2 separate regions of the Homo sapiens genome follow, and region 1 is linked to region 2. A link means that fine-mapping ties the variant in region 2 to the expression of a gene that starts in the linked region. Tissue or cell type: blood mononuclear cells. Region 2 holds a variant in brackets; the other region holds the start of a gene. All regions are shown on one strand. Distances are from middle to middle. Region 1 holds the start of CACUL1 (CDK2 associated cullin domain 1). Region 2 overlaps LINC03036 (long intergenic non-protein coding RNA 3036).

The links.
Region 1: CACUL1 starts here. The variant in region 2 is fine-mapped to the expression of CACUL1 in blood mononuclear cells (TOPMed, PIP above 0.99). The same link has a PIP of 0.9 or more in whole blood.

Annotation. Positions count from the first base shown.
Region 1 is chr10:118,748,304-118,764,119 of GRCh38, forward strand. It overlaps CACUL1 (CDK2 associated cullin domain 1), which reads right to left and starts at 6,667. Exons shown (of 9, transcript NM_153810.5): 1 at 6,093-6,667. The coding sequence starts at 6,459. LOC107987151 (a long non-coding RNA gene) reads right to left here and starts at 11,146. Exons shown (of 2, transcript XR_001747604.3): 1 at 10,330-11,146; 2 at 9,450-10,283. RefSeq lists enhancers at 6,596-6,735, 6,734-7,028.
Region 2 is chr10:118,783,823-118,799,638 of GRCh38, forward strand. It overlaps LINC03036 (long intergenic non-protein coding RNA 3036), which reads right to left. Exons shown (of 4, transcript NR_186540.1): 4 at 722-3,220. Among named protein-coding and RNA genes, the nearest start is that of CACUL1, 37 kb to the left of the region's middle. RefSeq lists an enhancer at 11,447-12,002. The variant T/A (reference allele first, on the strand shown) is at 8,955.

The DNA of each region.
Region 1 (15,816 bases), 36 kb before region 2:
CAAAGAGCAGGCTTGCTCACTGCTTTCTATAAAAGTAGTGGATTCCCCAAGTTTGATGTTCTTCAGCTGCAACACAGAACCACTGAGAGAGCATCCATCTTGGTCATAGTATGTCACCCTCTTGGGACTTGGGGGAAGGGGAAACTATGCAAATATAGCAATTCTCATGCTGTGTGCTATGACAAGAAAAATAAATTCCTTCATCTCTCACTCAGGAGTCCCCCATCTTATGTCAGCACCCAGTAATACAAGTTGAGAATCCTAAATCCAAAAATCCAAAATCTGAAACTTTTTGAGCACCAATATGATGCTTAAAGGAAATGTTCACTGGAAAATTTTGGATTTTGAATTTTTGGATTTGGGATGCTCAATCATTTGGTATAACACAAATATTCCAAAATCCGAAAAAAATCTGAAATCCAAAACACTTCTGGCCCCAAGCATTTTGGATGAGGGATAGTCAACCTGTAACAGTAATAGGCTACCTTTTAAGTATTAGTAGGGTAAAATCAAATTCCACACCAGACGGCGACATGGGTTAAAATGCATCAAACTGCACACCTAAAATGGGTACACTATATTGAATGGAGGAGAAGAGGTGTGGAGGAAGAAAATGGACACAGGAAAAAGAGGAAAGGAAAAGGAAGAAGAGTCAGGAGGAGGGAGGAAGCAGTCAGAACAGAAATTACTTAGTACGTGGAGAAATGAGTCCAGACATATGAAGAAAGGAATATAAATTTGTCATGTTCTAACCCACTCTTACTCCCTGAACTGTGCTCTGAGAAGGTCCTTCACCAACTGAGAAATATATAAATAATTAAATATAATTACTGAAAAAAATGCTGTGGTGGTTGTCCCTTGTAATTCTGGGTTAACGATGGGCAATACTGCCATTAAAAGAGGTTCCCTGATTTCAGTGGAATAGTTCTACTTCCAGAGTGACGAAGTGGAAATAACTTCCAGATATAAAATGGGCATGATTATTTAAAGAGGCAGCAGGGCCAGAGTGATCAGCAGAATGGCTTGGATTTCTGGTGGCTTGGATTTCTGGTGGCTTGGATCTCCCTCATGGTGGCTAACCATGATATCCTTAGGAAAACAAAGGCAATATACTGGGGTATTACTTGATCTGTTATAATGGACAGAAAAGAAAAACTCTAGATATATTAAACAGAGGTCTCACCTAAGTGGCATAATGGAAAGCCATGTAACCTCACCTAAAACCCACAATGAGCCTATTCACAGACACAGAAATGCTGGAATAAAGAAGAGGATGAGTTCCACTGAGGAAGAACCCCACATAATTAAAGTCTTCCTCCTAGCCTTTTCCAATAGAACATGCAGGTATTTATTAGGGAGATAGTACATTTGGGAAATGGAAATCACTGAGACTTTTCAAAGATTAATAAACACTGGCTCTAAGCCAATACGAACCCTAAGAGACAGGAACGTCACTATGGTAAACCAGGCAGATCAGGGGCTTATGGACGTCACATAAATGGTGTTTTGGCCTCAATCCATCTCACAGTAGGGCTGGTGGACCCGTAGTAACACTGTAACTCCCCCAGTTCTGAAACTAGTTCATGGTTCCCTAACCTGTGAAGTCAGGAATATCAACATAGGAAGGGCTAGATGTACCCTTTCCTACCAAAGTAATAAACTCGAAGCAACAAACAACACATCTCTGTGGGAACTATAGAAAACACTATCAATGTCAAAGACTTTAAAAATAAGAAAGGAGGGCCGGGCGTGGTGGCTCACGCCTGTAATCCCAGCACTTTGGGAGGCCAAGGCGGGTGGATGACCTGAGGTCAGGAGTTTGAGACCAGCCTGACCAACATGGTGAAACACATCTCTACTAAAAATACAAAAATTAGCCGGGCATGGTGGTGCACACCTGTAATCCCAGCTACTCAGGAGGCTGAGGCAGGAGAATTGCTTGAATCCGGGAGGCGGAGATTGCAGTGAGCTAAGACTGCACCACGGCACTCCAGCCTGGCGACAGAGCGAGACTGTCTCAAAAAAAAAAAAGGAATGGTGATAATTATGACATTCTTATTTCATGGGTCTGTTTGGCCAGAGCAAAAGAGATGAGTCTTGGAGCATGACTGTGGATTATCATCGATCAAATCCAAAGTGACTCCAATTTTAGTTGCTGTTCCAGACATGGTCTCTTCACTGTGACAAATCAACACCATCCCTGGCACCTACCATGTATCCATCAAGATAATAAATGCTTTTTATCTCTGTCCCAAAACTAGAAACCAACAGAAGCTGTTTTCACCTTACAGTCTAAAGTATACCTTCACTGCCATAGCTGAGGGATACATTAACGCGGCAGCTATCTTCCACTATCTGGTCCACAGAGACTTCGGACATCTCAACATCTCACAAGTTCACTACACTGCTATTCCCACAAGCAAGTATACGTTTTCCTGTATTACCATATCCCCATTGCACTTGGCACTATTCATTCAGCTTTCTAATTTTTGTCAACCTAAAGGTGGAAAAAGACATTCCGTTACTATTTTATTCTTTAATTTTTGTGGGTATATAGTAGGCATATATTTTTATGAGGTATATGGGATATTTTGATACAGGCATACAGTGTGTAATAATCCCATCAGGGAAAATGCGGTACCATCACCTCAAGCATTTATCCTTTGTTTTACAAACAATCCAATTATACTCTTTTCCATTACTATTTTAATATGCATGTCTCTGAATATTAATAAATTCATCTCTTCTTATGCTTTTTAGGGTTTCCTATTCTTTCTATAAGCTACTTATTAATATCCTTTGCCTATTTTTCTACAGAAGTTGCTGCCCTCTTGTTGATGTATAGTAAGTAGTCCCTTGTCTAGTCAGATCATCATCCCTTGTTAATTTTAGGCACTGTAAATATCTTCTCTAATTTTTTCATCTTTTGCCAAATGAATAATTTTCATATAATCAAAATAATTAATTTTTCACCTTTATAAACTTTTGAAGCTTTAAAAAGTACTTCCCTGTCCCTAGGGAAAGAGCTTAACATTTTCAATAATGTTAACTTTGGTTTTTCTTTTCACATTTAGGTCTTTAATTCATTTGGAGTCTATCCATTTATGATATTAAATTTATTTTTTCTCTATATAGTGAGTCACTCTCCCTAACAACATATGACTCCTTTCTCCAGTGGTTTATGATGCCACTTAAAAAGTTCCCAACTTTTATACATGTATCCAGGTAAGTCTCTGCCCTCCAATTTGTTTCCTTGGTCTATTTTTCTGTTCTCGCACTTACACCACTTTAACTACAGCCTTGACATCTTAACTTCTAATAAGGCAAGCCTCCCATCCCCAAACAAATCTTTAAGATTGATTCTGTTATTCACAAACTTTATCCCACACACCATATAAATTTTAGACTTAGGCTATTGAGTTTGTCAAACCAAATGTAATTTTGACGTCATTTAAACTGAATTTATAAATTGGAGAAAATTAGTATTCTTGTAAGTAATTTGATCCAAGAGCAAGGAAAATTGTACCATTTATTTAGATTATCCTCTAGTTTCTTTTTCAAGTTTTAAAGTTTCCTTTTTAAAGGTCTTGCGTATTCACGGGTTGATTCCTAGAGACTTTAGAGTTTTGTTGCTATTATTACATATAGTATTTACTTTTGATTATCTTTACTAGTTATCACTAGTTTAGTAAATGCTATCAAATTTTTGTAAGTTTATCTTAAATCCAGCAATCCTGCTAAACTCTTACTAGTTCTAAGTTTTCTCTGGATTTTAATGGTTCATCTAGGTAGGTGATCATATTATCTGCAAATAATAACTTTTATTGCTTCCCTTACAATCTTTATACCTTATTTTTTTGCTCCTTATAATGTTAGCCAGGACCTTCCTACAATGCTAAACAGTAGTAATGACAGGAGCATCCTTATCTTGTTACGGATCTTAAAGTATATGTATCTAAAATTTCTCCATTAAGTATTATTATTTACTGAAGGTTTTTGGTAATGACCTTTATCTAGTTATCTTGTACTCCTAGGTTACCAAGAGTTTTTATCATAAATAGCTGCTGGATCTAGTTGAATGATTTCAGGGCACCAATTGAGATAATCGTAATTTTTTTCCTTTAGTCTATTAAAGAGCTAAATTAGATAAGTAGATGTTAAACCATGCTTTCATCTCTAGGACTAACTCTATGGATCAGGACTCTGTAACACACTGTTGGATTTGATGAGCGAGTATTTATTCTGCAGTATTTTCATTTCTATGCTAAGTAAAACAGACCTATAATTTTCTCTTCTTACATGTCCTTATCTGTTTTAGAATCAAGATTTCACAAGCCTCATAAAATGAACTTGGTATTTTTTCTATTTTCCAGTGCAACTTGCAAAAAGAATTAAGTGTTAAAGTATGGTGGAACTCATCAGCGTATCTGGATGCAGAGCTTCTAAAAAGGGAGATCTTTACCATTTCAGTTTATTAGTTCAAGATATTTCTTCTGATACCAATTTTCACATTTACTAGTTTTCTAAGAACTATATTTTTCATTTAGGCTTTCAAATTCATCAGCCTAAGTTCATAACGTTCTTTTTTTAATCTGATATTTGTAGTTATTTTCCATTTTTCATTTATTTGCATCTTTTTTTCTTGTCGTTTTTATCAGAGGTCTGTCTGCCTAGCTTACTCATCTTTTCACAAAAATAATCTTTTGGTGTGACAAATCCTTTTGTTCTCAATTTTACTGATTTCTGTTCCTAACTTTATGCTCTTTTTTGAACTCTTCAAAGGAACTTTACTAAGGCAATCTTCCTTCGTGACTCAGGTGAAGTCATTCTGCCACTCTACAGGAGGTCTGGTTCCACAACACAGCCTTCAACACACAAACTATACAATATAAACATGATTATCATGAATAAGGAGAAAAAGCGTATATAATCTTACCAAACGTACATATCAATGTCTTTGACTAAGGCAGTATCTTGGGGCAAATAAAATTACGCGCTGTTCCCACACACAGTGTGTAAGATTCCGACTATCTGCATCAAGGCAAATATTTTCTCTGCACAGCTAACTGGACAAGTACAGCTTCATAAAATTAGTAGCTAGAAATGAACTCTCCAGTTGCTTTACCAGATGCCACTCAAAACTTGCAGTTAATAATAGGAGAGAAAAACCTGGCTGTGATGGTCACAATCATTTTCAACATCCTATCACCACCACCACCGCCACGCACACATACACACAAACCAAAGTAAAAGCACATTCTTTTCCTAGCTATGGAAGCATACATATATCCTGGTCAGAGGCAGTTTCGGATTACAAAACAGATTTTGGTCTTAAATCTTAATGCGTGCAATTGAGCGTTAAGACAGACTACTAACATAAAGTTCAACATGCAACCCAATCTTGGGTTTGGACACAAGACATAACCCATCCTGAAAGGCTTATTCTTATGAGTGTAAGCTCTGAAAAGTGATTTTATGCATTATTAGCTTCAAGACGATGTCGGAGCTGCCACTGCATCGGAAAGCAACTCATTATTTCCCTAGCAGGATGCAAAAGTGTAACACAGTAGAGAAGGAACAAGGTGTAGATATAGGTCAACTTTCAAATTCCTTACTTGTTTAACACAGCCTGGCCAAAAACACAAGAACACAAGTTGCCAGATTTCTTTTCTCTCTCTGGCTGCAGAAGACTGAAGGCCTTTCCCTAACGAGACTCAGGCAGCCTTATTTTCCCCTCACTTTGAGGGTGAAACTTCAAGAGAAGACGGGTGCGAAAAGAGCTTCCCAATGTTGAGAGACTGCCAGTTGTGATAGGGATCGCACTGACCGAACTTGGGGCTCCGTGTGTACCAGGCTGCCTCTCTAGGCCAGGTAATACAAGAAGCCAGGGCCGCTCAGGCGCTGGCCGCAGACACCAAATGAGGGGGAGGGGACGGTGAGGGGGAAGGAGGCAGGGAGGCGAAGGCGGACGGGGAGAAGAGGAAAGACCGAGGCCTGAAACAAAGGAAGCGGAGCTTTCTCCAAGAGGGGGTGGATTCGGCGTCCGAGTGAGGTGGAGAAAAGCCAAGGCTGCAGGGAAAGGCTGGACTCACAGAACTTGGAGGTGGAGGTGTTGATGTTGATGGTGGAGCTGGCGGTGGGGGCGGGGGCCGCCTTGGCCACGGCGGCGGCCGCGTCGCAGCTCTTCAACATCATGATCACCCCATTAGCCTCCGGCGGTGGCTGCGGCCCCATCGGGAGCCCCTCCTTGGGGCCTTTCCTGTCCACGGAGACCGCGGGCACCGCCAGCAGCTGCCCCCCCGGAGGCTCTCGGGCAGGGGCCGGGATCGACGAGGGGGGCGGCGGAGGTGGCAGGGGCTGCCGGAAGCCGTCCACCGCAGCCTCCCAGTTGTTGTGGTTCTGGTCGTCCATCATCGCCTCGTAGCTGCCCCCCTCCTCCTCTTCCATGCTTTCCTCCATCCTGCTGGCCCCCGGCACCCGCCCGCCTCACAGGCACCTGCCGCCTGTCTCAACCCCGGGCCAGCGGGCACCGCTGCCTCCCCGAGTTACATCGCCGGCGGCAGGAATGGGCGCAGCGGAGAGGGCTGCGGTGCGCAGGGTCTCTCGCTCTCCGCGGGGCCGACTAGCTTGAAGACGCGGCTGACGGCGGTGGGCGCTCCGGGGCTCTAGTCTGGGAGAGGCAGCCGTAAAGCAGCGGCGCTCCTCACGACGTTTTACAGCGGCTTCCAACAGGCAGTTGGAAAGGGCAGCTGGGGGCGCGGCCAGGAGGGCACGTGGTGCGAGGGACTGGCCGCGAGAAAGCGGAGCCAAAAGGGGCGGGAGCTGTGAGTCACTCCCACGCAACAGGGCAGAGGTTCGCCCCGCCTCGGCTGGCAGGGAGCTAACAGGGGAGGCGCGACGGGTCGGGACGGGCATTCGCCGGCCCCGCCCCCTGCCCGGCCTCACGTGACAAAGGTGTGTCTTGCGCACGCGCGTTCGCAATCTGGTTACCATGACGACGAGGCCCTCGCCGGTTCCTGAGGACGCGCGCGGAGCAGTCTTGGCAGTAGCTGTGGACTGGCCAGAGTGATTGGAGGTGTTTTCCTCGCGTCCTCCAAGTCTACGGGGCCTTCGCACCTCTGAGTGCCTGAGAGCCCCGGCTTTTGCTTGGGACGGAGGTACGGGACCACAAGAGGCCCCGGGGTCGCAGGTTATAAACGGATGAGACCGCCCTGGGCGGCCCGTGGTCCGACTGCTCTTGGGTCGGTCCCCAGCCGTCGCGACACACACGCACAAAATCGAGAATAAAAACCGAATCACACATAGCAGGATGGCGCAAAAAAGAAATGCGTTTGAGTTACTCATGTGTTTTTAAAATTCCTTTACGTTTGTATGCACTAAGGCCAGCAACCCAACTTTTAAAAATGCCGGCTCAGGCCGGGCGCGGTGGCTTACTCCTGTAATCCCAGCACTTTGGGAGGCTGAGGCGGGCGGATCACGAGGTCAGGAAATCGACACTATTCTGGCTAACACGGGAAACCCCGTTTCTACTAAAAATACAAAAAAGTTAGCCGGGCGTGGTGGCACGTGCCTGTTGTCCCAGCTAGCTGCTCGGGAGGCTGAGGCAGAATTGCTTGAACCCGGGAGGCAGAGGTTGCAGTGAGCCGAAATCGCGCCACTGCACTCCAGCCTGGGCAACAGAGCGAGACTCCATCTCAAAAAAAAAAAAAAAATGCGAGCTGGGCGCAGTGGCTCACGCCTGTAATTCAACCACTTGAGGAGACAGAGATGGGAGGCCCGCTTGTGCCCAGGAATTCGAGACCAGCCAGACCAGCATAACAAGACCACGCCTCTAAAAACAAAATTAGCCTGGCATGGTGGCGTGTGCCTGTGGTCCCAGCTACTCTGGAGGCTTAGGTGGATCACTTGAGCCCTGGAGGTCAAGGCTGCAGTGAGCCGAGATCGCGCAACTGCACTCCAGCCTGGGTGACAGAGTGAGACTGTCTCCAAAAAAAAAAAGAGAATTAAGTGGTATGCTGAAGGGGAAAACATAAAACCTTAGAATTACATGTGTGGCAAAAAGAGAGGCAGAAGGAAGGCAAATTCTGTTTCAAACAACTAATGGTTTATCATCAACAGACTCTAGGTAGATGGCTGGGTGAGTGCGATGGGATAAAGAAGGGTCTTTACATTTAAAAAAAAAGTCCAATATACAGGGAAGATAGAGTCAAAAAAGTGTCTCTAACATACTGTGTCATAAAGCAAGTCTTTACATATCTAAGGATTTATATCATAGCGACTATATGGCCACAAAATATATGAAGCGAAAATGAACAGAAGTATAAGAAGACAAAGAAATCTACCATCAGAGTAGGTGATTTTTCACTCCCTCTCTAATTGCAGTGAGTTGAATACAGCCTCCCACAAGATATGTCCATATCCTAATTCCTAGAACTTGCGAGTATGACCTTATTTGGAAAAACGGCGTTTGCAGATGTAATTAAAGTTCTTGAGATGAGAAGATCATCCTGGATTATCCAGGTGGGCCATCAATCCAATGATAGGTGTCTTTATAAAAGAGAGGTAGAAGAGAAGAGAAGGTAATGTAACCACAGAAGCAGAGATTGGAGTGATGGCATTCCCAAGTCAAGGAATGCTGACAGCACCCAAAGCTGGAAGAGACAAATTTTCCTCTTGAGCCTCTGGAGGGATTGTGACCCTGCCAACATGTAGATTTCAGACTTCTAGATGCCAGAACTGAGAATTCATGTCGGTTTTTTTAAGCCACCTATTGTGATAATTTGTTAAGCAACTGATTACAGGAAACTAATACATAGACCGAGGGGACCAAAAAAATCTTTAAGGTACTGGAAGAGTTGAGTAACACAATTACCAAGCTTAATCTAATATATATGTGTAGAATATTGCCTTAATGACCATAGAATACACACTCCTATCAAGAATATGCTAAACATTTACAAAAATTGAACATACTGTGTCATAAAGCAAGTCTCCACATATCTAAGGATTTATATCATAGTAACCACATTTTCTGGTCACTATATAGGTAAGTTAAAAATCAATAACCAAAAGGTAACTGGCAAGCCCCATATTTCCACTATTCCAATTAACTCATGGGTCATAAAATCATAATAGAAATTAGAAAACATTTAGAACTGATGGGCTTGGTACTAATCATAGCAATGTAACTTCCATCCTCTTGAGGGCCCTGCTCCAAGGGTTTTTACCCAGCACACTGATGAATACTGAACCTTTTGTGTGTGTGTTGTCAAAATGATCAATATAACAGCCATTTTTGCTGTAATTAAACTACTGTGACAAGACCTAATGACAGTTGAGCGAAACCAGTCACTGACAGGGGACAATTTCCCATAAGAAATCCTACTGAAGGGAAACCAAATGAACATATTGGTAACTGGTTGATTTTGTGGCATTATGAGACATTGTTATACTTTAGAGCATATTATATTTTAATAGTTATTAACATAAATCTTTGATTTGTTCTGGGTTGTGGAGATGGGGTATAACATTATTAGCAACATTTACCCAAAAACAGTGAACACAAGGTTAGTAGTTACTATGACGTTCCATAGTCGCAGATATTCATCTATTTGTTCGGTTTTTGTTTGTCTGTTTCTATTTCCCACTAGGCTGTGAATTTCATTAAAGCAGGATAAATATATGTGTAAAATTTCTGTGTAAGTTTGGATACATAAAGAGGAAACTAACTCAAAACTCAATAGCAGTTATCTAGGGATAGTGAGATTATGGATGGTCTTAATGTTCTTCTTTATATCTTTCAATGTTTTCTTGGTTCTCTACAATAAGTATGTATTATTTTTATAATCAGAAAAGAATTCTGAAACTTAAAGATTAACAAATAAAAACGTTAAGTATAAATTGGGATTCCATAGGCTAAAATGTTTGTTTTGGCTTCCAGAAGCAAAAACTCAAATAAAAATTGCTTTAAAATCAAGGCTGTTCATTGGCTAAGAGACTGAGAAGGTCTAGGAATGGTGGAGGTGAGGCAGGGCTCAGCCATTACTGAGCTCTGCTTCTCTGTGGTGTTGTCTTGTTCTCTCTTGTGCATGTTTCACCCTTAGGCTGCCTACAAAATGCCTGCCACAGCCCCTGGCCTCAGGTCTATGGACAAGAAGTCAAGATGAAAAGGGCCTGTGAATTCTGGTAGCTTTCTATTATGAGAAAATTCCCAGAAGCCCTCAGGAAACTTCCTCACAGTGTCTCATTGGTCCATTCCTAAACCAATCACATGGCACTTAGACCTGGATTCCAGAGCCCTTTACTGGAAAGGGTATGGACTCATTAGACCTGGATTCCAGAGCCCTTTACTGGAAAGGGTATGGATTCATTCCTGGAAAATAAAGCCCATTCCTGGAACTTAGCATGGGATCAGCTTCTCCCTAAGTACATTGGCTGAGAGGGGAAGGAGTGGCTAGAAGAACAAATATTGGAGTCAATCGGGAATGTTTAAAGTGCTGGGTAGGCTACAATTCCATTATAGGCCAAAGTATGGAATCCCCTAGAACTCCTATTACCTAACCTTACCCCAGCCTCTCCACTACCTGCCCTTCATAAATGCCTCCCTAATCAATATATCTATGCAAAATTATGTACATACTGATTAGAATCAAGAAAGACATAACCGGCCAGGCAGTGTCTGATATCTGTAATCCCAACACTTTGGGAGGCCAAGGCGGGTGGATCACCTGAGGTCAGGAGTTCAAAACCAGCCTGGCCAACGTGTTGAAACCCTGTCTCTACTAAAAATACAAAAATTAGCTGGACGTGGCGGCATGCACCTGTAATCCCAGTGTGTCCAGAATTGGTGGGTTCTTGGTCTCACTGACTTCAAGAATGAAGCTGCAGACCCTCGCAGTGAGTGTTGCAGCTCTTAAGGTGGCACGTGTGGAGTTTGTTCCTTCTGATGTTCGGATGTGTTCGGAGTTTCTTCCTTCTGCTGGGATCATGGTCTCGCTGGCTCAGGAGTGAAGCTGCAGACCTTCACAGTGAGTGTTATAGCTCATAAAAGCAGTGTAGACCCAAAGAGTGAGCAGCAGCAAGATATATTGCAAAGAGTGAAAAAACAAAGCTTCCACAGTGTTGAAAGGGACGGGGGCGGGTTGCCACTGCAGGCTCCGGCAGCCTGCTTTTATTCTCTTATCTGGCCCCACCCCCATCCTGCTGATTGGTCCATTTTACAGAGAGCCGAGTGGTCTGTTTTGACAGGGCACTGATTGGTGCGTTTACAATCCCTGAGCTAGACACAAAGGTTCTCCAAGTCCCCAATAGATTAGCTAGATACAGAGTGTGGACACAAAGGCTCTCCAAGTCCCCACCAGAGTAGCTAGATACAGAGTGTCAATTGGTGCATTCACAAACCCTGAGCTAGACACAGGGTGCTGATTGGTGTGTTTACAAACCTTGAGCTAGACACAGGGTGCTGATTGGTGTATTTACAATCCCGTAGCTAGACATAAAGTTTCTCCAAGGCCCCACCAGACTAGCTAGATACAGAGTGTTGATTGGTGCATTTACAAACCCTGAGCTAGACACAGGGTGCTGATTGGTGTATATACAATCCCTTTGCTAGACATAAAGGTTCTCCAAGTCCCCACCAGACTAGCTAGATACAGAGTGTGGATTGGTGCATTCACAAACCCTGAGCTAGACACAGGGTGCTGATTGGTGTATTTACAATCCCTTAGCTAGACATAAAGGTTCTCCAAGTCCCCACCAGACTCAGGAGCCCAGCTGGCTTCACCCAGTGGATCCAGCAAGAGGGCTGCAGGTGGAGCTGCCTGCCAGTCCCGCGCCCTGCGCCCACACTCCTCAGCCCTTGGGTGGTCAATGGGACTAGGCGCCGTGGAGCAGAGAGCGGTGCTCGTCTGGGAGGCTGGGGCTGCACAGGAGCCCACGGAGGCGGGGGCAGGCTAAGGCATGACGGGCTGTAGGTCCTGAGCCCTGCCCCGCGGGAAGGCAGCTATGGCCCGGCGAGAAATTGAGCGCAGCGCTGGTGGGCCGGCACTGCTGGGGGACCCACTACACCCTCCGCCGCCGCCAGCCCAGGTGCTAAGCCCCTCACTGCCCGGGGCCGGCGGGGCCCGCTGGCCGCTCCGAGCGCGGGGACCGCCGAGCCCAAGCCTACCCGGAACTCGCGCTGGCCCACAAGCATCACGGGAAGCCCCGGTTCCCGCCCGCGCCTCTCCCTCCACACCTCCCCTCAAGCTGAGGGTGCCGGCTCCGGCCTCGGCCAGCCCAGGAAGGGGCTCCCACAGTGCAGCCGCGGGCTGAAGTGCTCCTCAAGTGCCGCCAAAGTGGGAGCCCAGGCAGAGGATGTGCGGAGAGCGAGCGAGGACTGTGAGGGCTGCCAGCACGCTGTCACCTCTCACCAGCTACTTGGGAGGCTGAGGCAGAAGAATCACTTGAACCTGGGAGACGGAGGTTGCAGTAAGCCGAGATCATGCCGCTGCACTCCAGCCTGGGAGACAGAGTGACACTCCATCTTAAAAAAAAATAAAAATAAAAGACATAACCCATGTTTGTTTAATTATGAAATGCCATGTGGCCAATTGTCTAAAATAGTTAAAACATTGGGGGGGGGTGGGCTACAGAGACTTGGTCACTAAGAATTAGTCTTTGTACGGCTTTAAATACATTGTCACTTTCCCAAACAATATTTATTTGTAATTGTTCAATACTTTTTAATGAATAAGTGTATGACTAGCTTAAATCTACTTGAAATCCTATTTTATATCAAAAGACGTTTTTCTTTTTGAGATAAGGTCTTGCTCCGTTGCCCAGGCTGGAGTGCAGTGGCATGATCATGGCTCACTGCAGTTTTGACCCCCCAGGCTCAAGCGATCCTTCCACCTCAGCCTCTCAAGTAGCTGGGACTACAGGTGTGCACCACCATGCCCAGCTAAGTTTTGTAACTTTTGTAGAGATGAAGTTTCACCACGTTGCCCAGGCTGGTCTCAAACTCCTGGGCTCACCTTGTCCTCTCAAAGTGCTGGTATTACAGGTGTGGCCCATGGTACCTGGCTGAAAAGACTTTTCTTCTTTGGTCAACTCTGACAGCATAGCATGTACTATGCGATACATTAGTCCCTGAGAGAAAGTATTATTGCAATTTTTACATCTTTTCATCTATCATACCAACCTGGCATTTGTGGCATTGTTAGTAAAGGATGAAATTGCTCAGAAGTGAATAAGAGGAAAGAAGAGGAGAAAAAATATATGAGAAAAATCCAAAAATTATACATGCCTCTTCTAAGTAGTCAAGAACTCATTGAATCAGAAAAGACTGTAGTAGACAACATACAGACATATAGGTGTTTTCTCTTAATTGCTATTCATTTTAAATGGACTATTAATTACACAAAGGAATTAGCATGGAAAACATAAAAATTCAACTTTGATGGAGATAAACTATATTAGGATAAAGAAGAATGAATACTTGTGTTTAATCCCTAGGAGATTAGAATTGTACCAATACAGCATTGACAAAGAAATAATTTGTGAATGCATAATGCAGTTGGAAGTCTAACTGCAAAGCTATTGGAGTGATCTTGATTAGAAGGTAAGAGGATTATTGCCGTGTAAACTCAAGCCTCAACAGTTGCACACTGAGATTACTGATTACAGTGAAGATGGGTAGCCACTCGGGGGAGTATTCTGTATTCAGTATTTCTTTCCATGTTCAATTTTATTCCTTCCTTTTACATCTTAGCATCTGAATTCTAAATTCCATCCTAGCAGGGAAACAGAGGAAATGATGCAGATTCTCTCATAAGCCTGATGAATTTAGGAGCTGAAGGAAATGACTTGAGGCTGAAGGAGGTTGGGGGAAAACAAGCAGGCAAGAGACGGGGAGTTATGTCGACACTTCATTGCAGGCCTGTCCCTTTCACTCAGTCATTCACCAATATTTCTGTGTTCAGGTACTGTGCGGGGGCTATAAGAGTAAACAGATAGCTGGGTGCATGGCTCACGCCTGTAAACCCAACACTTTGAGAGCCTGAGGCAGGAGGATCACTTGAGCCCAGGAGTTCAAGACCAGTTTGGGCAACATGGTGAAACCCTGTCTCTGTGAAAAATACAAAAATTAGCTGGGCATGGTGGAGTGTTCCTGTAGTCCCAGCTACTCAGGAGACTGAGGTGGGAGGATCACTTGAGTTCAGAGGGGGAGGCTGCAGTGAGCCAAGATCACACCACTGCACTGCAGCCTGGGTGACAGAGTGAGACCTGTCTCAAAAAAAAAAAAAAAAAAAGTAAACAGACAAAAAGCACTCTGCTCCTCATGGAGTTTCCATTCCATGAGGGTATCAAGCACTAAACAACCACATGAGCCAAAGCATGACAAACGCTAGGAAAGAATGCCATGACTGGGCATTACTGAGAGAATTCTTTTACTTTGGGGGATCGAGGAGAACCTCTGTGAAAAAGAATATTTCTGCTAAGATGAAAGGATGGGTAGAAGAGAGCCAGACAAGTTAGGAAGAAAACATTCCAGGCAGAAGGGAGAACACAAGGAAGACGTTTGACATCATCTCTAAACTGAAAGAAAGGCAACAAGACTGCAGTAGCGTGAAGGGAAGTGGATGGGAATGGCATACGCAGAAAGGCAGGACACGGCTGGGTTATGCAAGTCCTCGTAAGGCCTGTTGAGAATTTAGTGTTTCTGTTTGAATGGAAAAGAGGTAGAGAAGTGGCATAGGATGTGACTTACATTTGATAAGGACATCTAACTGCCTTGAGGGGAGTGGCCTATAGGAAAGGAAAGAGTGAAAACAGAGACTAACTGGGGAATTGTGGCAATACTTCAGGCAAGAGATGATGGTGGCTTGGACTAGAAGGATGGCAGTGGATATAGAGAGAACTGGTAGGCTACAGATTTTGACATTAGACTGGACAGTTCTTGATGGTGGATTCGACATTGAGGACCAGGGAAAGAAAGGTTTCAAAGATGCCTTACTCTGGTATACACCGGGATAGAGCATCACATTCTATTCAAAGCTAGGAATTTATCAGATGCATGTAAGGGGAGGAAAGTTCAGTGAGCAATGGAAATGATGAATCAGCCATAGACTCCAAGCTGAATAAGAAAGTAAAGACAGATGGAGCAGATGGGTAGAGAGAAGGTAGAGTTTTTCATGGATGAGAGGTGTCCATGGGGTTGAAGAGCTATTGGAAGGGACATCTGTCCTTAAGCAAGAAACTAGCAGGATGGGTCATAACCCAACAGTAGGCTGAATTCATGATTTCAAAGGTATTGCAGTTGCTGCTGGTGACAAGACCTACAGTGGGAATAGCAGACATTGACCTTTGTTTTTGTTTGGCTGTCAAGTGCCTGATTTGCTTCCTATTTGTACACATTCACATTTGTTTGCTTTGGTGCAGGAAGCCAAAGGGTGCCAGACATTCCCTCTCCCCATACGCCACCATCAAGAGCAAGGGCACACATGCTGTGCTCAGCCAACCAGATCTTTCTGCCAAGGTATTTGAGTCTGAAGAGAGTAACACAAAACCATGGGAATCACTGGAAATGATTAATGACATCTGCAGAGTTCAGGTTTCACAGTAAGGGCAGGACTAGAGGCAATGGGTTAACCAAGCTGCCCCTCTGGTGTGACCTCAGCTGTATTCTCAACTGCCCAGATTTCCTTGCTTTCTGTCTGTGTTCTAGGCCAGTTTCCTCAAACTTCTTGTTGATTCTGTGAGCTACTCAACGTCCTTCCAATAAATTCCTCTCCTACTTTAGTTAACTGGCATTGGTTTCTGTTGTTTGCAAACAGA
Region 2 (15,816 bases):
TGGGTCCCCTTGTGCACTGTGGAAGGTTTGTTCTTTTGTTGTTTGCAATAAATCTTGCTACTGCTCACTCTTTGGGTCCACGCTGCTTTTCTGAGCTGTAACACTCACCGCGAAGATTTGCAGTTTCACTCCTGAGCCCAGCGAGACCACGAGCCCCCCGGAAGGAACGAACTACAGACGCGTTGCCTTAAGAGCTATAATACTCACCGTGAAGGTCTGCAGCTTCACTCCTGAGCCAGCGAGACCACAAACCCACCAGAAGGAAGAAACTCCGAACACATCTGAATATCAGAAGGGAGAGACTCCACACGCGCCACCTTAAGAGCTGTAACACTCACCGTGAGGGTCCGCGGCTTCATTCTTGAAGTCAGTGAGACCAAGAACCCGCCAATTCTGGACACACAAGGAGGGTACAATGGTCTTGTTCAGTAGGTGCCAGAAGGTCCCACGGTAAGAAAGAAGGCAAACACCAACTCACAAGCACTTTCCTCTGCTTGTGACACATTAGCTATTTTTACATTGTCCAAAGCAAGTCACAAGGCCAGAGTCCGTGGGAGGGGACCACCCAAGGGCATGGAACGAGGGAACCAGGAACAAGTGGGAGCTGTTACTGCCACAACCAACTACACTGACCCATTTCTCAGTGGTCTCCGAATGTTTTTGATCATATATCCCTGTATTAGTCTGTTCAGGCTGCCATCACAAAATAACACAGACAGAATAGCTTAAACAACAGAAGTTTATTTTTTCATAGTTATGGAAACCCAAGATCAGGGTGCTGGTATGGTTGGGTTGTGGTGGGGTCTCTCTTCCTGGTCTGCAGATGGCTGCCTTCTTGCTATGTTCTTACATGGTCCTTCCTGGATGTATGCACAGGGAGAGAGAGCACAATATCTCTCTCATCCCTCTCTTACAAGGTCACCAATTCAATTGATTAGGACCCCACCCTTATGACCTTATTTAACCTTAATTACCTCCTAAAAGCCCCATGTCCAAATACAGTCACACTGGGGATTAGGGCTTCAACATATGTATTTGTTGGAACACAGTTCAGTCCATAGAAATCTCTATTTTTTAAGACATTTGCAGCTCCAATACATGCATATTTATGTATACATTATATATACATTACATTAAAAATTTTTTAAAGATGAGTTAAAGATGTAATATTTTAGTGTTAATTTTGATGGCATTTTTTTATTAATAAATAATATTGCAAGGCACAATACACACTAAGGGTGAGCTCATGAATGACAGTGGACATAAATCCATCTTTCAAGGGACCCTCTTGATCATTTTAGTTTGGGGGGCAAAGAGGCTGACTTCTTGGCAGATTTCATTTTACCTCATAATGTGCTGATATAGAGCTGATACTAGCCACATAAGCTCTGCCAATTTCTTATGGTTTTCTGGGACTTATACTATTAGTATTATCTTTAATCTTCAATCTATAATAATCTATTAAAACATTTTCATTTTGTAAAGATCAATTTTGGTAAAACTAGATCATGGGCTGGGTCCAGTGCCTCACATCTATAAATCCTAGCAATTTGGGAGGCTGAAGCAGGTGGATCTTTTGAGGCCAGGAATTTGAGACCAGCCTAGGCAACACAAAAAGACCTCATCTCTACAGGAAAAAAACAAAAAACAAAAAAAAAAAACCTGGGTGTGGTGGCATGCACCTATAGTCACAGCGACTCAGGAGGCTGAGACAGGAGGATTGCTTGAGCCCAGGAGTTCGAGGCTGCAGTGAGCTAAGATCGCACCACTGCACTCCAGTGTGGGGGACAGGGCCAGATCCTGTCTCTTTAAAAACAAAAACAAAAAATGGCCTAGGTTGTGTAGTTTATAAATCCATCTACCCACTTGCGAATAGACCAAACTATCTCAGATTCCCCTGAGTGTTGATGTGCAGGTGGTGAGGTTACCAGCACCGGCCCCCACATCACAGAGCATTCAAGGCTGCACCTGTGCCATGGGTGGCAAAGGAGCCTCTGAGGAAAGCTATGACTGTCAAGCTGAGTCCGTTTTGTGCTTTGTGGGTTTTTAAAATTTTTGTTTAATACTTTTTGGTGTTCTACACATTCAGAGAAACTTTTCTAGTAACAAATGATAGAAATGATCCTTGAAAGTATCATCTTCTGAACATTAAAAGATTAGGAAAGTATAATTGCTTTGTTATTTTTTTAGCCCCAAAGTTCCAATATTTTTTCACACAACCCAGCACCTTGTGCTGAGCGCCCCACTTGGAAACCACTGATTTGCTTTATCAAAAAAAAAGTGGTTTTGTACATGATATTAAAGTGTAAAACAATGCCTTATGCCCAATGTTAGTAGCAACTGAATAGTTTATATAAAAGTATCTGGTAAGTAGGGCTTGGTCTTATATAAAATTGGAAATCTGGCTGGGCGCGGTGGCTCATGCCTGTAATCCCAACACTTTGGGAGGTTGAGGCAGGCGGGTCACTTGTGGCCAGGAGTTCAAGACCAGCCTGGCCAACATGGTGAAACCCCGTCTCTACTAAAAATACAAAATTAGCCGGGCATGGTAGTGTATGCCTGTAGTCCCAGCTACTCAGGAGGCTGAGGCATGAGAATCACTTGAACCCGAATTGCTTGAACCCAGGGGGCAGAGGGTGCAGAGAGCTGAGATCAGGCCACTACACTCCAGCCTGCAACAGATCAAGAATCTGTCTCAAAAAAAAAAAAAAAATCAGAAATCTATGGGATTGCGAGTGATTTACTCAAAAGAAACCAAAAAAGGCTTTATATTCACATGAGTCTGTGGCCCCTGGGGAGGATATCCTCAGCTCCCTCTCCACTTCCCTGACCATGGACTGGGCTTTAGGACTCTAGTCCTATGTCCCATTAGTTTTCTACAACTGTCATAACAAATTACTACAAATTCAGCCACTTAAAACAATAGAAATTTGTTCTCTTACAGTTCTGGAGGCCAGAAGTCGAAATCCAGGTGTCGGCAGTGTCAGCAGGGCCACGCTCCCTCTGAAGGCCCTAGGAGAGGCTCCTTTCTTGCCTCTTCCAGCTTCTAGTGCCATCAGCATTCCTTGGCTTGGACGGCTTTGCTCTGTCTTCACTTTGCCTTTTCATCCATGTTTCTGTCTTTTCCTCTGTGTGTCCTTTATCAGGACATGTGTCATTGGATTTCAGGCTCACTTGGATAATCAGGATGACCACTTCATCTCAAAATCTTTAATTACATCTGCAAAGACCCCGTTTCCAAATAAGGTCACGTTCGCAGGTTTTTAGGGTCATCATTCAGCCCACTGCACACGTTCTCCCTGCAATGTCAATGGATGAATTGGGGTCCAGAATGAGAGTTGGGGCACCGTGTGGACCAGCCTCTGTCTTTCCCTCCTTCCTGACTCTGCAGGGCTCCTCTGAACACCATGCTTTATCATGGAAGCCTTCCTCCTTGTATTTTACAGTCAACTCACATCTTCCATGAGGAGGAAATGCCTGAGACTTAGAAAAGGGGTCCTATGGTTCCTTCTCCCTGTCTTCCCACAATCATTCCATGCATTTCCTCTCCTCTATGATGCTTCAAAGCACTCTCTGGGCAACCACCAGCCTAGTTTCTGATCTCCAAAAAAGGAGCCACCCTTTTGGTGGGTTTATCATGTCAGCCCAACAGCAGTAAACCTGGCCAGCCCCATGGCAGAGTTCTTGCAAACAGGGAAGGGAAAAGTGGACCCAAGAGACTTTCTCTGGGCCTAGGAATCAGACTATTTTCAAGTCTAATCAGGGGCCGGGTGTGGTGGCTCATGCCTGTAATCCAAGCACTTTGAGAGGCCAAGGTGGGAGGATTGCTTGAGTCTAATAGTTCAAGACCAGCCTGGACAACATGGCAAAACTCCATGTCTACAAAATATACAAAAATTAGCTAGGGATTGTGGTGTGCACCTGCAGTCCCAACTACTTGGTAGGCTGAGGCAGGAGGATTGCTTGAGGAGGCAGAGATTACAGTGAGCCAAGATCACACCACTGCACTCCAGTCTGGGCAACAGAGTGAGACCCAGTCTCAAAAAATAAGAATAATTAAAAATAATAATAATAGGCAGTGCTCCTAGAATCTGAGGATACCCTGGCAGTTGGCAGGGCAGTGGTGCTGGCTTGGGGTGAGAAAACATCAGACAAGAAGACAGAAAAATAGCTGGGTGTGGTGGTAGGGCTAATGTGCCCCAGCCTTGAGGTCACACTTCAAGGAACTAGAGAAACAAGAACAAACCAAACCCAAACCCAGCAGAAGAAAAAAAAATAATCAAGATCAGAGCAGAACTAAATAAAATGGAAACAATCAAACTAACAAAACCTATACAAAAGATAAATGAAACAAAAAGCTGGTTCTTTGAAAAGATAAACAAAATTGATAGATCATTAGCGAGATTCACCAAGAAAAGACAAGAGAAGATCCAAATAAGCTCAATTAAAAATGAAATGGGAGATACTACAACTGATACCACTGGAATACAAAAGGCTACTGTGGACACCTTTATGCACACAAACTAGAAAATCTAGAGATGGATAAATTCCTGGAAATATACAACCCTCCCAGATTAAATCAGTAAGAAATAGAAACTCTAAACAGACCAATAACAAGATTAAGACAGTAAAAAAAAAAAAAAAATTGCCAACAAAATAAAGCCCAGGACCAGACGGATTCACAGGCATTCAAAGAAGAATTGGTACCAATCTTATTGAAACTCTTCCAAAAGACAAAGAGGGAATCCTCCCTAAATCATTCTATGGAGCAAGTATCATCCTAATTCTAAAACCGGAAAAAGACATAACAAAAAAAGAAAACTATAGACCAGCATCCCTGATGAACATAGATGCAAAAATCTTCAACAAAATACTAGCTAACTGAATCCAACAGCATATCAAAAAGATAACACACCCATAATCAAGTGGGTTTCATAGCAGGGATGCAGGGATAGTTTAACATATGCAAGTCAATAAATGTGATACTTCACATAAACAGAATTAAAAACAAAAATTATGTGATTATCTCAATAGATGCAGAAAAGGCATTTGGCAAAATCTAGCTTCCCTTCATGATTAAAACTCTCAGCAAAATTGGCATAGAAGGGATATGCCTCAAGGTAATAAAAGCCATCTATGACAAACCCTCAGCCAACATTATACTGAATGGGGAAAAGTTGAAAGCATTGCCCCTGAAAACCGGAACAAGACAAGAATGCCCACTTTCACCACCTCTATTCAACATAGACTGGAAGTCCTAGCCAGAGCAATCAGACAAGAGAAAGAAATAAAGGGCATCCAAATCGGTAAAGAGGAAGTCAAACCATCGCTGTTTGCCGATGATATGATCATATACCTATAAAACCCTAAAGACTCATCCAAAAAACTCCTAGATCTGATAAATGAATTCAGTAAAGTTTCAAAATCAATTCAGGAAGCAAAATCAATGTACACAAATCAGTAGCATTGCTATACACCAACAGCGACCAAGCTGAGAAATAAATCAAAGACTCAATCCATTTCACAACAGCTGCAAAAAATAAAATAAAATAAAATACTTAGAAATATACTCAACCAAGGAGGTGAAAGACTTCTACAAGGAAAGCTACAAAACACTGCTGAAAGAAATCATAGACAACACAAACAAATGGAAACACATCCCATGCTCATGGATGGGTAGAATCAATATTGTGAAAATGACCATAGTGCCAAAAGCAATCTACAAATTCAGTGCAACTCCCATCAAAATACCACCATAATTCTTCAAACAACTAGAAAAAACAATCCTAAAATTCATATGGAACCAGAAAAGAGCCCACATAGCCAAAGCAAGACACAGCAAAAAGAACAAATCTGGAGGCATCACATTACCTGACTTCAAGCTATCCTATAAGGCCATAGTCACCAAAACAGCATGGTACTGGCATAAAAATAGGCATGTAGACCAATGGAACAGAATAGAGAACCCAGAAATAAAGCCAAATACTTACAGCCAACTGATCTTCAACCAAGCAAACAAAAACATAAAGTGGGGAAAGGACACCCTATTCAACAAATGGTGCTGGGATAATTGGCAAGTCCCATGTAGGAGAATGAAACTGGATCCTCATCTCTCACCTTATACAAAAATCAACTCAAGATGAATCAAAGACCTAAATCTAAAACATGAAATCATAAACATTCTAGAAGATAACTTTGGTAAAACTCTTCCAGACGTTGGCTTAGGCAAAGAGTTCATGACCAAGAACCCGAAAGCAAATGCAACAAAACGAAATAAATAGATGGGGCCTAATTAAGCTAAAAAGCTTCTGCAGAGCAAACCAAATAACCAGAAGAGCAAACAGAAAACCCACAGAATGGGAGGAAATATCCGCAAACTATGCATCTGACGAAGGACTAATATCCAGAATCTACAAGGAACTGAAACAAATCAGCAAGAAAAAACAACGTCATCAAAAAGTGGGCAAAGGACATGGATAGACAGTTCTTCAAAAGAAGATATACAAACGGCGAACAAACATGAAAAAATGTTAAACATCACTAAGTATCAGGGAAATGCAAATTTAAAAACACAATGAGAAACCACCTTACTCTGCAAGAATGGTCATAAATAAAAAATCAAAAAATAATAGATGTTGGCATGGATTTGGTGACAAAAGAACACTTTTACACTGCTGGTGGGAAGGTAAACTTGTACAACCAATATGGAAAACAGAATGGAGATTCCTTAAAGAACTGAAAGTAGATCTACCATTTGATCCAATAATCCCACTACTGGGTATCTACCCAGAGGAAAATAAGTCATTATATGAAAAAGACATTTGCACACACGTTTATAGCAGCACAATTCGCAATTGCAAAAATATGGAACCAGCCTAAATGCCCAGTGACCAATGAGTGGATAAAGAAAATGTGTTATATGTACACCATGGAATACTACTCATGTGAATAGCATTCATAGCAACCTGGATGGAGTTGGAGACCATTATTCTAAGTGAAGTAACTCAGGAATGGAAAACCAAACATCTTATGTTCTCACTTACAAGTGAGAGCTTAGCTATGAGGGCGCAAAGGCCTAAGAATGACATAATGGGGGGCCGGGCGCGGTGGCTCGCACCTGTAATCCCAGCACTTTGGGAGGCCAAGGCGGGCGGATCACGAGGTCAGGAGATCAAGACCGTCCTGGCTAACACGGTGAACCCCGTCTCTACTAAAAATACAAAAAAATTAGCCAGGCGCGGTGGCGGGCGCGTGAACCCAGGAGGCGGAACTTGCTGTGAGCCGAGATCGCGCCACTGCACTCCAGCCTGGGCAGCAGAGCAAGACTCCGTCTCAAAAAAAAAAAAAAAAAAAAAAGAATGACATAATGGACTTTGGGGACTCAGGAAGAAGGGTGGGAGGGGGGTGAGGGACAAAAGACTACACACTGGGTACAGTGTACATTGCTTGTGGGACGGGTGAACCAAAATCTCAGAAATTACCACTAAAGTATTTATCCATGTAAGAGAAAACCACCTGTTTCCCAAAAATGACTGACATTTAAAAAAAGAAAACCCCCCAAATAATAGTAATAATAATGTTTAATTAGGTGTTTGCCCTTTGACCAGAGTTGCTGTATTTAGCAAATAAGAATGCAGGAGGCCCAGTTGAATTTGTTTTGTATAGGGGACAACTGGTATTTTAGTATGAGTATGTCCCATGGAATATTTAAAAATTTACAAATGCAGCCGGGCGCGGTGGCACACGCCTGTAATCCCAGCACTTTGGGAGGCCAAGGCGGGCAGATCACGAGGTCATGAGATCGAGATCATCCTGGCTAACATGGTGAAACCCCGTCTCTACTGAAAATACAAAAAAAAAAAAAAAATTAGCCGGGCGTGGTGGTGGGCGCCTACAGTCCCAGCTACTCCGGAGGCTGAGGTAGGAGAATGGTGAAAACCCGGGAGGCGGAGCTTGCAGTGAGCTGAGATCATGCCACTGCACTCCAGCCTGGGCAACAGAGCGAGACTCCATCTCAAAAAAAAAAAAAAATTACAAATGCAATATTTGGAACATATTTATACTAAAAATTATTCGTTATTCATCTGAAATTCAAGTTTAACTGGGTATCCCGTATTTTATCTGTCAACCCTACCTATGACCTTCCTTTCCTTCCCTCTTCTTTGCTTCCTTCTTTCCTTCCTCTGTTCTTCCTTCAAAAAAGCCTTTGTTGTAAGACTACTATCTGCAGAGTCCTATACTAGAAACAAATAAAGCATAATGTTCTTCAGGGTGTTCACAGCATAGGGGAAGGGAAAAAGCAGCAGCAAATGCCTTTAGCACAGTGCAGTTCCCCCACTCCAATAAATGTACATATAAATAGTTCAGGGACCACAGAGAAAAAAGCAATTAATTCTGTTTGGGGTAGAACCAGGTAAGGTGGAGGAAAAGAGATTGAGAAAAGGTGCAGGGTGCAGGTTCTTGGCCCATTCTTGATGGACAGGTGTAAAGCAATGGAGAGGTATTCAGGCCAAAGGCAAGTTCAGGCAAAGGTATGGCATGAGAAAGACACACTCTGTACGGGGGACATGGAAGACCTGCCATGGTTGGTTTGGTGAGGTGGGATCTGGATGTGTCTGTGGGTAGGGGTGGCTCTGATGTCAGGAGAGGGGATCAGAAACCCCACCTTGCTTGGAGTCAAGTGTGTAGGGCTCTTTATTCTATGCTGAGGAGCTGGAGCTTTCTCTGATGTGTCTTGAGAGACTGAATATACAAATGGACAGTGGCCAGACCTTAGATGACTGTAGACCTCTGATCCACAAACTTAGCAGTCACTTGCCCAGAAGCCAAACCACAGCCTCTGCAGCAATCAGCCAGAAAAGTCAGGCTTTGGGCAACAACTGCCAGCTTCCCTATTTTTTGCCCCTGCTTCCAACCAACTCAGGACCAATCACATAAAATGCCCTGTTTCTAAT[T/A]AGTCTGCCTCCAGCTTCCCTAGGCCAACAACCTCCAATCAAAGTACATGCGAAGTCTTCCTTTTTCTTCACCATAAAGCTTCCCCATTCCCCTGCCTGCCTTTGAGTTTCTGTTCTAAATAAACAGCCTTGTTTTTTCTCATTTCAGTGGTTTTCATTTATTTCCTCAATATAGACTGTACAGATTGCTTTTGAAGAGGGGGAGAGGGAGCAATGGGAGTAGTTAGCTCTGTAAAACTGATACCCTAATATATAGTGCTAATAGAACAATAGGTAGTGGTGGCATTCAGAGCTAGAAAAATCTGCTTTTGAGACCCTTTGCTATCTATACACACATACCCACACACAATTTTTTAACGTTTAGACACACCTGAACAGCCTCTAATTCTTTTATACTCTAAAGAAAGATTTTAAATCGTTAAAGTACAGTTTTTTTTAAAAAAAAAAAAAAGGATTTTTAAAGTTACCCTTAATTTTATTTTTTATTTTTATTTTTATTTATTTATTTATTTTTTGAGATGGAGTTTCCCTCTTGTTGCCCAGGCTGGAGTGCAATGGCATGATCTCGGCTCACTGCAACCTCCACCTCCCAGGTTCAAGCGATTCTCCTGCCTCAGCCTCCCAATAGCTGGGATTATAGGTGCCCACCACCACGCCCAGCTAAGTTTTTGGACTTTTAGAAGAGACAGGGTTTCACCATGTTGGCCAGGCTGGTCTTGAACTCCTGACCTCAGGTGATCCACCTGCCTCGGTCTCCCAAAGTGCTGGGATTACAGGCATGAGCCACCACACCCAGCCCAATTTTATTTTCAATGTAATATTTTCTTTCTTTCCTCTTGTGTGGTAGATTGCATCATTGACTCCAGTTTGTCACCCTTCCCTGTATTTACACCCTCGGTCATTTGACTCTGGGACTTTCCATGAAGTGGGCATCACATGGCTTTCTGCCCCACCGATGCCATGGTTGGCCACGAGACCTGCTTTGGCCAATGGGATGTTGGCAGACATGATGCAAGAAGAGGCTTGGAACAGACCTACACTCCGGGCCTGGGCTTTTGTACCTCAACCGTCTTGGCGAGAAGAACATGCCCAAACCAGTCTGTGGTTGCAGGAGAAGGATAAGAGTCAGGTGGAGCTGAGCCATGTCCAGCCAGGCCTAGTCTACTTTAGACTACCTCCAGCTGACCCACAGACAGATGAGCTCAATCAATGGCTATTATTGTTTTATGCCGCTGAAATTGTTGTGGCTGTTACGCAGCATTTCTATATAATAGTTGAATATTACACTCCTTGACTTCAGAAGTTGAAGAAATGTTTTGTTATTTTTAACGTGATTGGTTTTTTTGTTTGTTTGTTTTGTTTTTGAGACAGTCTCACTCTGTTGCCCAGGCTGGAGTGCAGTGGTGCAATCTTGGCTCACTGCAACCTCTGCTTCCCAGGTTCAAGAGATTCTCGTGCCTCAGTCTCCCGAGTGGCTGGGACTACAGGCGTGCCACCACGCCCAGCTAATTTTTTGCATTTTTAGTAGAGACAGGGTTTCACCATGTTGCCCAGGTTGGTCTTGAACTCCTGAGCTCAGGCAGTCCACCCACCTCAGCCTCCCAAAGTGTTAGGATTACAGGTGTGAGCCACCATGCCAGGCCTTAATAAGTGATTGTTAATGGCAGCTCTTATTGGTTGTCTACCCAAATCCATTCTTTGCTGCTGGTAGAACCTTGATTTTCTTCAGGATTTTACCCTCTGCCTAGCCTGGACAAGCACCAGGGAAGGTGCCCTCTTCAACTATAGGGAAAAAATCTTAACCAATCCAAGCCAAGTGTAGCTTGCTGGCAATTGGTTGAAGAGAGAGCATATAACACAGTTACAGCCAATGAGATGTGAGGAGTCAGCTGAGGGGCTTTCTGGAAAGGCTTCCCTCCTCTTTGAAAGAGATCCATGAGATGATTCTTCCTTTTATCATTCCAGTAGACTTTTGGAACTGTTGCCGCCATCTTGGGACCATGAGGGGGCCAGCAAGAGGACAAACCAACAGGCTGAAGAAGACAGACTGGGAAGAGCCCAAGTTCAAAATGTCATTGAAAATCCACCCAATTGGCAAGCCTTGGAGCTGCCCTAACTCAGGGCTACTTGGTACCTGTCCTCATGGTTTAGGCCACCTTTCTTTGCAGGTTGTGTTCCTTATAGTTCAATTCTTCCTAGATGATTCAGATACCCCCTCAGAAGAGGAAAATCCAAGTTATAGAGAGTGATGTATAGGTTTTCTTTTCTTTCTCATGTTTCTATCCAAGTGATTCATCCCTGAGTGAGGACCTCTAACAAACTCTTTAAAGATGGGCTTAAAGAATGTTCACTCCAGGCAGCCCCTGCCCGGCCAGCCCCCCCGTCCGGGAGGTGGGGGGCGCCTCTGCCTGGCCACCCCTTCTGGGAAGTGAGGAGCCCCTCTGCCCAGCTGCCACCCCATCTGGGAGGTGTACCCAACAGCTCATTGAGAATGGGCCATGATGACGATGGCGGTTTTGTCGAATAGGAAAGGGGGAAATGTGGGGAAAAGATAGAGAAATCAGATTGTTGCTGTGTTTGTGTAGAAAGAAGTAGACATAGGAGACTCCATTTTGTTCTGTACTAAGAAAAATTCTTCTGCCTTGGGATGCTGTTGATCTATGACCTTACCCCCAACCCGGTGCTCTCTGAAACATGTGCTGTGTCCACTCAGGGTTAAATGGATTAAGGGTGGTGCAAGATGTGCTTTGTTAAACAGATGCTTGAAGGCAGCATGCTCGTTAAGAGTCATCACCACTCCCTAATCTCAAGTACCCAGGGACACAAACACACAGGGTCCTCTGCCTAGGAAAACCAGAGACCTTTGTTCACTTGTTTATCTGCTGACCTTCCCTCCACTATTGTCCTATGACCCTGCCAAATCCCCCTCTGTGAGAAACACCCAAGAATGATCAATAAAAATAAAAAAAAAATTAAAAAAAAAAAAAAAGAATGTTCACTCCAGAACTCCCATTCACAATTGCTACAAAGAGAATGAAATATCTAGGAATACAATTTACAGGGGATGTGAAGGACCTCTTCAAGGAGAACTACAAACCACTGCTCAAGGAAATAAGAGAGGAAACAAACAAATGGAAAAACATTCCATGCTCATGGATAGGAAGAATCAATGTCATGAAAATGGCCATACTGCCCAAAGTAATTTATAGATTCAATGCTATCCCCATCAAGCTACCACTGACTTTCTTCACAGAATTAGAAAAAAAGTACTTTAAATTTCATATAGAACCAAAAAAGAGCCCATATAGCCAAGACAATCCTAAGGAAAAAGAACAAAGGTGGAGGCATCACGCTACCTGACTTCAAACTATACTACAAAGCTACAGTAACCAAAACAGCATGGTACTGGTACCAAAACAGATATATAGACCAATGGAACAGAAGAGAGGCCTCAGAAATAACACCACACATCTACAACCATCTGATCTTTGACAAACCTGACAAAAACAAGCAATGGGGAAAGGATTCCCTATTTAATAAATAGTGTTGGGAAAACTGGCTAGCCATATGCAGAAAACTGAAACTGGACCCCTTCCTTACACCTTATACAAAAATAAATTCAAGATGGATTAAAGACTTAAATGTTAGACCTAACACCATAAAAACCCTAGAAGAAAACTTAGGCAATTACATTCAGGACATAGGCATTGACAAAATCTTCATGACTAACACACCAAAAGCAATGGCAACAAAAGCCAAAATTTACAAATGGGATCCAATTAAACTAAACAGCTTCTGCACAGCAAAAGAAAGTATCATCAGAGTGAACAGGCAAACTACAGAATGGGAGAAAATTTTTGCAATCTACCCATCTGACAAAGGGTTAATATCCAGAATCTATGAAGAACTTAAACAAATTTACAAGAAAAAAAACAAACAACCCCATCAAAAAGTGGGCAAAGGATATAACACACTTCTCAAAAGAAGACATTTATGCGGCCAGCTAACATATGAAAAAAAGCTCATCATCACTGGTCGTTAGAGAAATGCAAATCAAAACCACAATGAGATACCATCTCACGCCCATTAGAATGGCAATCATTAAAAAGTCAGGAAACATCAGATGCTGGAGAGGATATGGAGAAATAGGAATGCTGTTACACTGTTGGTGGGAGTATAAATTAGTTCAACCATTGTGAAAGGCAGTGTGGCAATTCCTCAAGGATCTAGAACCAGAAATGCCATTTGACCCAGCAATCCCATTACTGGGTATGTACCCAAAGGATTATAAGTCATTCTACTATAAAGACATATGTACATGTATGTTTACTGCAGCACTGTTCACAATAGCAAAGACTTGGAACCAACCCAAATGCCCATCAATGATAGACTGGATAAGGAAAATGTGGCACATATACACCATGGAATACTATTCAGCCATAAAAAGGATGAGGTCGTGTCCTTTGCAGGGACATGGATGAAGCTGAAAACCATCACTCCCAGCAAATTAACACATGAACAGAAAACCAAACACTGCATGTTCTCACTCATAAGTGGGAGTTGAACACTGAGAACACATGGACACAGGGAGGGGAACATCACACACTGGGGCCTGTTGGGGAGTGGGGAGCTAGGAGAGGGATAGCTTTAGGAGGAATACTTAATGTAGATGACGGGTTGATGGGTGCAGCAAACCACCATGGCACGTGTATGCCTATCTAACAAACCTACATGTTCTGCACATGTATCCCAGAACTTAAAGTATAATAATAATTAAAAAAAAAAAAAAAGAATGTTCACTCCAATAGATGGCTCTGAGATTTGACTTTGAGGGTTTTACCAGGGCTCTACTATGTTAGGAAATTACTTCTGGCCTCTCTATATGACTCTTTGATCCTTTCCCCAGTGAAATGGGGATCCCCTGAGGACAACTTCAGAACCTGGCAAGTGCAAGAAGAATTTCAACTATACAATTCCTTGGTAACATCCATCCTTCCAAAGAGAGACTTCTAGGCTCTATTGACTTGGAGTTGCTTTAAGTAGCAAGGGTGAAGTTGACCTTTTTTACATATTGGCAGCAAAATTACAAAAATCAAAGTCAATCCGCAAGAATGATCTTTCTCCAGAACAATGAGCATACTTCACTGGTGTGATATATTTCAGTTCAATAGACAGTATCTTCAGAAAACACATTAAAATGTCATTAGATTTCATCTAAACTTGCTGGTAATTTCGGTAACCTGACTATCTCTCCCTCCTCCCACCCTGTGCTCAACAGAAACAAGCTCATACCAAATTAACATTCATTTTGTTAAAACTAAATCTCAGACCACCTTCTGGACTTGCCCAGCTTTCTCCTTCCTCTGGGCCACTCGCTGGTTCTTTTCTCCTCTGGAATGACTCTCTCCCACTTACAACCTGGCAAACTCATCATCTGACAATACAAAGTTCACAGGTCAATTCCTCCTCAAAACCTTGCCTTGGACCCCTGAGGCAACACCACATAGAGGGGAGGTTGAAGTCAGGCTGACCTGAGGGTGGATCGAGCTCTGTACCCAATTAGCTGGGTGACCTTTGCCAAGGAAGCCAGTTTCTCTGAGCCAAGTGTCAGCTTTCTCGCCTGTAAAATATGAATCATGATTACCCCTGCCTTGGGCTTGTGCTGAGGATGAGATGAGCTCATGTAAGAATCCCTGGCACAGAGTTAAGGACTCAATGTGTTTTGGCTGTTGCTACAGGATACCTTCCCAAAGAATCATAAAGCTTTATAGCAATAAGGGACTTCAGAGTAGCTCTTCTCGACCTTCCATGTACAAGCCAATCACCTGGGGACACAGATTCTGAAGTCCTGGTGCAATGCCTGAATTTTTTTTTTTTTTTTTTTTTTTTTTTTTTGCGTTTCTTGCAAGTTTCAGAGTGCTGCAGATTCCCCTTGTCCCAGGAGCACACTTTGAAATGGCAAGACTTTAGGAGACATTGACTTCCTGCTCATTTTACAGAAAATAAGCATGAAGCCCGAGAAGAGCTGCTCCTAGCCCAAAAGGATCCAGAAAGCTGCTGAGAAAGGCAACACAGAACACAATCTGCTGGTGGAGTTTGAGGAGAGATTCACTCTCAAAGCAATTGCTGATCAGAAACAACTTTGTGAGGTTTATCTGTAAATTGTGAATACATTTCCTCCACCCAAGAGCCAGTACTCTGCTTGCTGAACAAGGTAAGCTTTATTCCTGCCTCTGAGATGGGAGGAAGATTGGGTGAGACGGACAATTTCAAGAACAAAGACATTAAGCTAAAATGAGTGGTATTCTATCTGGGGAGAAGCGGAAACACATTACCCAAGGGCCTGTGGCATAAAACATAGCTTAGAAGGAGCAGCTGTGGGTTGGTTGGTTTGTTTTAGACAGAGTTTTGTTCTTGTCGCCCAGGCTGAAGTGCAATGGCGTGATCTCGGCTCACTACAATCTCCACCTCCCGGATTCAAGCGATTCTCCTGCCTCAGCCTCCCGAGTAGCTGGGACTACAGGCATGCGCCACCAAGCCCGACTAATTTTTTTATTTTTAGTAGAGACAAGATTTCACCGTGTTGGCCAGGCTGGCCTTGAACTTCTGACCTAAGGTGATCCACCTGATGTCTCTCTCGCCCAGAGTGCTAGGATTACGGATGTGAGCCACCACACCTGGCCACAGCCGTGGGTTTTTACTCTTCTCAGAATATCCTAAAAAAATCAAAGTTTTCAGGAAATTGGGGGAGAGTGCAGGAACAGTCATCGCTTTTCCAACGTAAGATAATTTCCAGATTTGCAACATTCGGGAAATGAGCACAACTCACTCCTCTTTGAGGCAGCACCCAGCTGATGCAGCT